Homo sapiens: one gene and its partner. The protein of the gene in region 2 interacts with the protein of the main gene of each other region in a pairwise test. Each region holds a gene or a part of one and is shown on either strand. Other genes may lie near its edges.

The links.
Region 1: the proteins of ZDHHC15 (region 2) and TSNARE1 interact in a two-hybrid assay, tested with the Homo sapiens proteins (one large-scale study listed by BioGRID).

The regions. Positions count from the first base shown.
Region 1 is NC_000008.11:142,344,030-142,347,838, forward strand, and holds part of TSNARE1 (t-SNARE domain-containing protein 1), read right to left. Parts: intron 1,864-3,809; coding exon 1,714-1,863; intron 444-1,713; coding exon 1-443.
Region 2 is NC_000023.11:75,512,790-75,516,598, forward strand, and holds part of ZDHHC15 (palmitoyltransferase ZDHHC15), read right to left. Parts: intron 1-3,809. UniProt on the Homo sapiens protein: Palmitoyltransferase that catalyzes the addition of palmitate onto various protein substrates.

The DNA of each region.
Region 1 (3,809 bases), on a different chromosome or scaffold from region 2:
CACCTGCTCCACGGGCGTGAGAGCCAGGGCCTGGGGCTTGCCGGAACCAGGGCTGGGGCCATGGGCCGCCTTCCGGAGGTCGCCCAGCTTGCGCCGCACGACGGCTCGTAGGTCCCGCCACTTGTGCTTCAGGTCCACAACGTCGCGGCGACAGTAGCCCAGCGCATTCACGGCCTGCAGGATGCGGCTCCACACGCGGTACCTGCGAGTGGGCTCGGCCTTCAGCAGCCCCGTGCCAAACAGCAGCTGGTGGTGCTTGCTCACCTTGGACACCAGCACCTCGGTCTCCTGCGGGCAGAAGTTGGGCTTCCTCTTCTTGGCCCGGGTAGTGCTGGGCCCCGCCATCCGGCCATGGGGCCCAGCAGCCGAGTCCTTCCTCGGGCCAATGGTGGGTGATGAGGTGGGCTCCGGCATCCGGCTGCCTTCAGGGGCAACCCCAGGCCCTGGAAAGGCACCAAAAGGCGGATGTTTAAGGCCCTGGGCCTGTGGAGGCAGCGGCCCCGGCGGCAGCTCCCTACGGCGCCTCCTCTCTGGTTTCTGCTTCAGGACACGGCTGCCTGGTCCTGGCCACCACCCCTCCCTGCTGGGTGTCCAGAGACCTGGGCCCACGATCCCCTAGCCCTGACACTGCCTCACCAGGTGCCATCAGCAAGCACGTAGCTTCTGGGTCACAGTGCCCCATCTCCAAGACAGCACACCACTAGCCCTGCCTGCCCCTGCAGCCACCACAGAGGTGCAGGAGCCGAGCAGGCTAGGTTGCGGCCCTGGACCCTCTCCAGGGTTTCCTGCCCTCAGGCCAGGGCTGGGCTGCTCCCGGGATCAGCCCTCGCCTGGGGACAGCCTTGCCAGCTGACATTTTGGAAGGCTCCTGCCTACCTGCCCACAGCACAACTAAGAGCCCTCTGAGCACAGGCCTCGGCTTCCCTCCCACACTTGGGCCAGGGCCGGTGGGGACACGGTGGCCAGCCTCGACTTCCCCTCCCGCACTTGGGCTGAGGCCGGTGGGGACGTGGTGGCCTGGTCGGCAGCCTCACCCCCCTACCATCCTGTGCCTCCACAGCCCTCCATCCTGCAAGGGAACAGGGCTGCACTGGCAACAGTGGCAAAGTCTCTGCGTCTTTGCTCACAGACGAGCTTTTTCACTAACCGGACCAGCTTCCTGAAGGCAGGGACAGTGCCCGACACTGCAGGTTCCCTGGTGCTGCATGTCTGAGCCCCCAAGGAGAAGCACTCAAGTACAGGCCTCTCCCTGGGGGCCTGGTGTCCCAGAAGGACCTGGAAGGGGCCCCTCCACCAGGAGGGAAGCCCACCAGGATACCTGCAGAGGTCACCGCACCTGTTCCTCCCCAAACCACAGCAAGCACTCTGCCACCCCTCACCGGCCCACTGCACAAGGACAGTCGGGCTTGAGGGTGAGGGGCCACAAGAGCAGGTCCAGAGCCCCCAGCGGGAGCACCCCTGCTCAGTCCTGAGCCTACAGGGTTGGCCAGCTCTGGCCACCACACAGCTTCCATCCTGTGGCCTGTATGGGCCGGCTGCACCCTTGACCCTACTCAGGGGAAGGCCTGGCAGGGGGCAGGGGATGCAGGTCCCTTGCCTCCTGGTCCCAGCCTCCTCCCTGCAGCTCCCACCTGCTGACCCTGCCCTCCTCAGCACCTGCATCTCCAAGCCGCCTTCCCAGGACCCCTGAGACCCAGCGTCTGAGTGAAGTACCTCGCTTCCTGGCCCTTGGGACAATAGGCGTGCCTGCTGGCCCCAGATCACCTTCCCCGTCCTTCCCCACACAGCGGTTCTGCAGCTTGCTCTCTGGCGACGGGCAGGGGAAATGGCGGATTCCATACTCGGTCCAACATCTAGCGCACTCTACGGACAGCAAGGGACAGTCACGATTACTCTCAGCTCAGGGCGCTCCTGGCAGTGCCAGGCCCCCATGCACGGACAGCAGACACCCAGGACCCGAGATGCTCCACTCAGGGCTCCTCCTCCAGGAAGCCCTCCCTGCCTGCTATATCCTCTGGATCATCCCCCTTCTGCTGAATGCCAGCAAGGAGTTCAGAACTTTAGGTGTTCCGGACTTTTCTCTGAACCAGTTCTGAAATGTGACTGCAAACTAGCAAACAACCCCCAGGGCTTGCAGGGGTAGCCACAGATTAATCCCTGGACAGCTATTACCAGTCAGCAACAAAGTACAAAATGGGAAGTGCGGCTCCAGCATCGTTTAAGGCAATTTGAAACTGCTGCGACCTCCACGCTCAGAATCATTCTACTGCATTTTATAAAAGTGCCACTCCGTAGCGTATGGGAGATGAAAAGCAAAGCCACACTGCTGTCCCCACTCGGCTTTGCGGAGGCAGAGACGCGTGCTCCCCATCTCCCGGCTCCCAGCCCCCGCACGGAACGCATCGTAATTTTCTCTAATTATTTCCATTTGTTCACAAAACATTTCTGGACACATTTCATTGAAATTCATTGATCCTCAGATGCACCTTATAAAAGCCTTTTAAAATCTCCAGAACCACGATGTGCCTTTCGATCCACGGCACCCCAGAGTCACAGACACGCCGTGTGCGCCAGGCTGAGGCCTCCGAAGCCAGACCCCGCGTGCCTGTCTGCAACCTGTTCTTCCCGGGACGTGTCCTGGTAGGTCACAAGGATGCTGCTGGCTTGGAAGCGCTTTCCAGCCACATCCGCGGCCTCCAGGGCCAGGTCGGCACAGTGGGTCCCAGGGCTGCATCCTTGAGCCAAGCGCCTGAAGCAGCAGCTCTTGGAAAAGGCCCTTCATACAACCCTCAGAGAAGTGACACTAGGGGCCGCCCTGGTGAGCTCCCTCTCAGGATCCGTCTAGGGGGACCCTACAGCCCAACGTGACAGGGAGGGAAGGACTTTCCCAAAGCCTCTCATCGGACCCCCACGAGGTGGGCGAGGGCCCAAAGGCTACCTGGTCCATCCTCCTGCCCCCAGACAGCACTGCCCAAACCACACAGGCAGAGACAGGCCTACGGCCACACAGACTCAGGAAAGGGCCTCCAGTGCCCAGCTCACTGCTCTGGACTGGGGCACGCTCACCCTCCAGCTCTGGGCCCTGGTGGGGGGAAGAGGGAGAAGCCTGCAGAAGGACGGGAGGGCAGCTGCCTGGCTCATTTCGGGGCGGAGGTTTCCGCAGGGCAGAGAAGTGCAGCAAAGTAGATCAGAGTCAGAAGACAACCCTCTGGAGGGGATGGAGAGGGAGCAGCCGCAGCCTGGAGACAGACACTGCCCTGGGAAAACCAGGCACCCACGAAGAGGCACTGACCAAGGCCCGGAGGGGGCCCAAGTCACAGAGGGAGGGATCCCAAGTCACAGACGCCTCTCAGTGTTTGATGAAGTGAGCCTCCAGCATGGGTCCCCCTCCCAAGAGGGCAGGGCCTGTCCCTCCAGCTCCCGGCAGGCCCTTCTCCCCTGGCATCCACACCATCCTCTCTCTGCACAGAGACACACTCTCCAAGCTGGAAACCCCGGACAATGGCCTGTGAGGGGATCCAGGCACTTGGTGACTGAGCTCAGCCTCTGCTCAGAAATGGGGTCCCACAGGCCCCCAGAGAGACCACAGGCCCTGCTGTCACTCAAGGACACGCCATCACCTCGCCACACTGCATCCGCTCACCCAAGTCCAGAAGGACACGCCATCACCTCGCCACACTGCATCCGCTCACCCAAGTCCAGAAGGACACGCCATCACCTCGCCACACTGCATCCGCTCACCCAAGTCCAGAAGGACACGCCATCACCTCGCCACACTGCATCCGCTCACCCAAGTCCAGAAGGACACG
Region 2 (3,809 bases):
TTAAAGTTCATATGGAACCAAAAAAGAGCCCGCATCGCCAAGTCAATCCTAAGCCAAAAGAACAAAGCTGGAGGCATCACACTACCTGACTTCAAACTATACTACAAGGCTACAGTAACCAAAACAGCATGGTACTGGTACCAAAACAGAGATATAGATCAATGGAACAGAACAGAGCCCTCAGAAATAACACCACATATCTACAACTATCTGATCTTTGACAAACCTGAGAAAAACAAGCAATGGGGAAAGGATTCCCTATTTAATAAATGGTGCTGGGAAAACTGGCTAGCCATATGTAGAAAGCTGAAACTGGATCCCTTCCTTACACCTTATACAAAATCAATTCAAGATGGATTAAAGATTTAAACGTTAGACCTAAAACCATAAAAACCCTAGAAGAAAACCTAGGCATTACCATTCAGGACATAGGCGTGGGCAAGGACTTCATGTCTCTTCGGAAAATTTCTACCTTTCAAGTAGAATTATATCATAGCTATTTTTATTTTTTAATCTCAGAATGGATACTATTGGGCACCAAAACTAAGAGTACTCCAGACTTACATCCCTCCTCAAAAGCAACTAATGAGCTGGCAAAAACTGTCAGAATAAACTTTTGCAGAACTCTGGAATCTAGTAAAATTGTTACAATAACCAGAGAGGAAGACTTGGTGAAGAAAAGAACTGATGCTTTGTAGTAAGAGGATACTGTGACATTTTAAAGTGGCTGCCTACCATCCTCCACATCCCAGATCAGTAGAGGCTGTGAGGACAGCCGCCTACACTCTACTATATACAATAATAGAGCCTACACTCTAATATACAGCCTATATCCTAACATACTAATATACACATAACGGGGCTTCCAAAGTGAGAGGAAAGAGAGGAAAAACAGAAAGAGTATTTGAAAAAATGATGGCTAAAAAACTTCATACATTTGGTAAAAAATATGAATCTAAACATCCAAGAAGTGCAATGAACTCCAAATAGAATAAACTAAAAGATATCCACAATCAGACACATTATAGTCAAATTGCCAAAAAACAAAAAGAAAATCTTGAAAGCAGGAAAATTGACTTTTTACATAACAAAAAAAAAACAATAAGACTAACAGCTGATTTCTCTTAAGAACCCACAGAGGCTAGAAGGCAGTGAAATGTGATATTTAAATTGCTGAAAGAAAAAGAAAAACATCTGTCAACACATATACAGAACTCTATGTCCAGCAACACTATACTTCAAAGAATGAAAGCGAAAACAAGACATTCTCAGATAAACAAAAACTGAGGGAGCTGATCACTAGTAGAATTGCCCTTCAAGAAATGCCAAAGGGCATTCTTTAGAAAAACTGAAAAGGCACTCACTGTAACCCACGCTATACAAAAAAATAAGAACACTGGTAAACTATACAGGTAGCTACAAAAGCAAGTAATATTGAGTTTTACGTTTTTTTTAACTCTTTTTACTATCTAATTTAAAGGAAAAAATGCATAAAACAACAATGATAAATCTACGTTAAGGAGTATACAATGTATAAAGATGTAATTTGTGATAATAGCATAAAGGGGGCAACAGAGCTGTAAACGGCTGGGTTTTGTATACTATTAAATTAAGCTGGTATTCAACAGGATCATTCCAAGATGGCTGAATAGGAACAGCTGCAGTCTACAGCTCCCAGCGTGAGCAACACAGAAGACAGGTGACTTCTGCATTTCCAGCTGAGGTACGAGGTTCATCTCACTGGGACTGGTTGGACAGTGGGTGCAGCCCATGGAGTGTGAGCCGAAGCGGGGCGGGGCATCACCTCACCCAGGAAGCACAAGGGGTCTGGCAATTCCCTTTCCTGGCCATGGGAAACTATGACAGATTGCACCTGGAAAATCGGGACACTCCCGCCCTAATACTGTGCTTTTCCAATGGTCTTAGCAAATGGAACACCAGGAGATTATATCCCATGCAAGGCTCGGTGGGTCTCACGCCCATGGAGCCTTGCTCACTGCTAGTACAGCAGTCCGAGATAGAATTGTGAGGCAGCAGCAAGACTAATAAAGAAGAAAAGAGAGAAGAATCAAATAGACGCAATAAAAAAATGATAAAGGGGATATCACCACTGATCCCACAGAAATACAAACTACCTTCAGAGAATACTATAAACATCTCTATGCAAATAAACTAGAAAATCTAGAAGAAATGGATGAATTCCTGGACACATACACCATCCCAAGACTAAATCAGGAAGAAGTTGAATTCCTGAATAGACCAATAACAGGCTCTGAAATTGAGGCAATAATTAATAGTCTACCAACCAAAAAAAGTCCAGGACCAGATGGATTCATACCCGAATTCTACCAGAGGTACAAAGGGGAGCTGGTACCATTTCTTCTGAAACTACTCCAATAAATAGTAAAAGAGGGAATCCTCCCTAACTCATTTTATGAGGCCAACATCATCCTGATACCAAAGCCTGGCAGAGACACAACAAAGAAAAAAAAGAGAGAGAATTTTAGACCAATATCCCTGATGAACATTGATGCAAAATCCTCAATAAAATACTGGCAAACCGAATCCAGAAGCACATCAAAAAGCTTATCCACCAAGATCCAGTTGGCTTCATCCCTGGGATGCAAGGCTGGTTCAACATATGCAAATCAATAAACGTAGTCCATCATATAAACAGAACCAAAGACAAAAACCACATGATTATCTTAATAGACACAGAAAAGGCCTTTGAAAAAGTTCAACAGCCCTTCATTCTAAAAACTCTCAATAAACTAGGTATTGATGGAATGTATCTCAAAATAGTAAGAGCTATTTATGACAAACCCACAGCCAATATCCTACCGAATGGGCAAAAACTGGAAGCATTCCCTTTGAAAACTGGCACAAGACAGGGATGCCCTCTCTCACCACTCCTATTCAACAACATATTGGAAGTTCTGGCCAGGGCAATCAGGCAGGAGAAAGAAATAAAGGGTATTCAATTAGGAAAAAAGGAAGTCAAATTGTCCCTGTTTGCAGATGATATGATTGTATATTTAGAAAACCCCATCATCTCAGGCCAAAATCTCCTTAAGCTGATAAGCAACTTCAGCAAAGTCTCAGGATACCAAATCAATGTGCAAAAATCACAAGCATTCGTATACACCAATAACAGACAAACAGAGAGCCAAATCATGAGTGAACTCCCATTCACAATTGCTTCAAAGAGAATAAAATACCTAGGAATCCAACTTACAAGGGATGTGAAGGACCTCTTCAAGGAGAACTACAAACCACTGCTCAATTAAATAAAAGAGGACACAAACAAATGGAAGAATATTCCATGCTCATGGATAGGAAGAATCAATATCATGAAAATGGCCATACTGCCCAAGGTAATTTATAGATTCAATGCCATCCCCATCGAGCTACCAATGACTTTCTTCACAGAATTGGAAAAGGCTACTTTAAAGTTCATGTGGAACCAAAAAAAGAGCCTGCATTGCCAAGACAATCCTAAGCCAAAAGAACAAAGCTGGAGGCATCATGCTACCTGACTTCAAACTATACTACAAGGCTACAGTAACCAAAACAGTATAGTACTGGTACCAAAAAAGATATATAGACCAATGGAACAGAACAGAGCCCTCAGAAATAATACCACATATCTATAACCATCTGCTCTTTGTCAAACCTGACAAAAACAAGAAATGGGGAAAGGATTCCCTATTTAATAAATGGTGCTGGGAAAACTGGCTAGCCAGATGTAGAAAGCTGAAACTGGATCCCTTCCTTACACCTTATACAAAAATTAATTCAAGATGGATTAA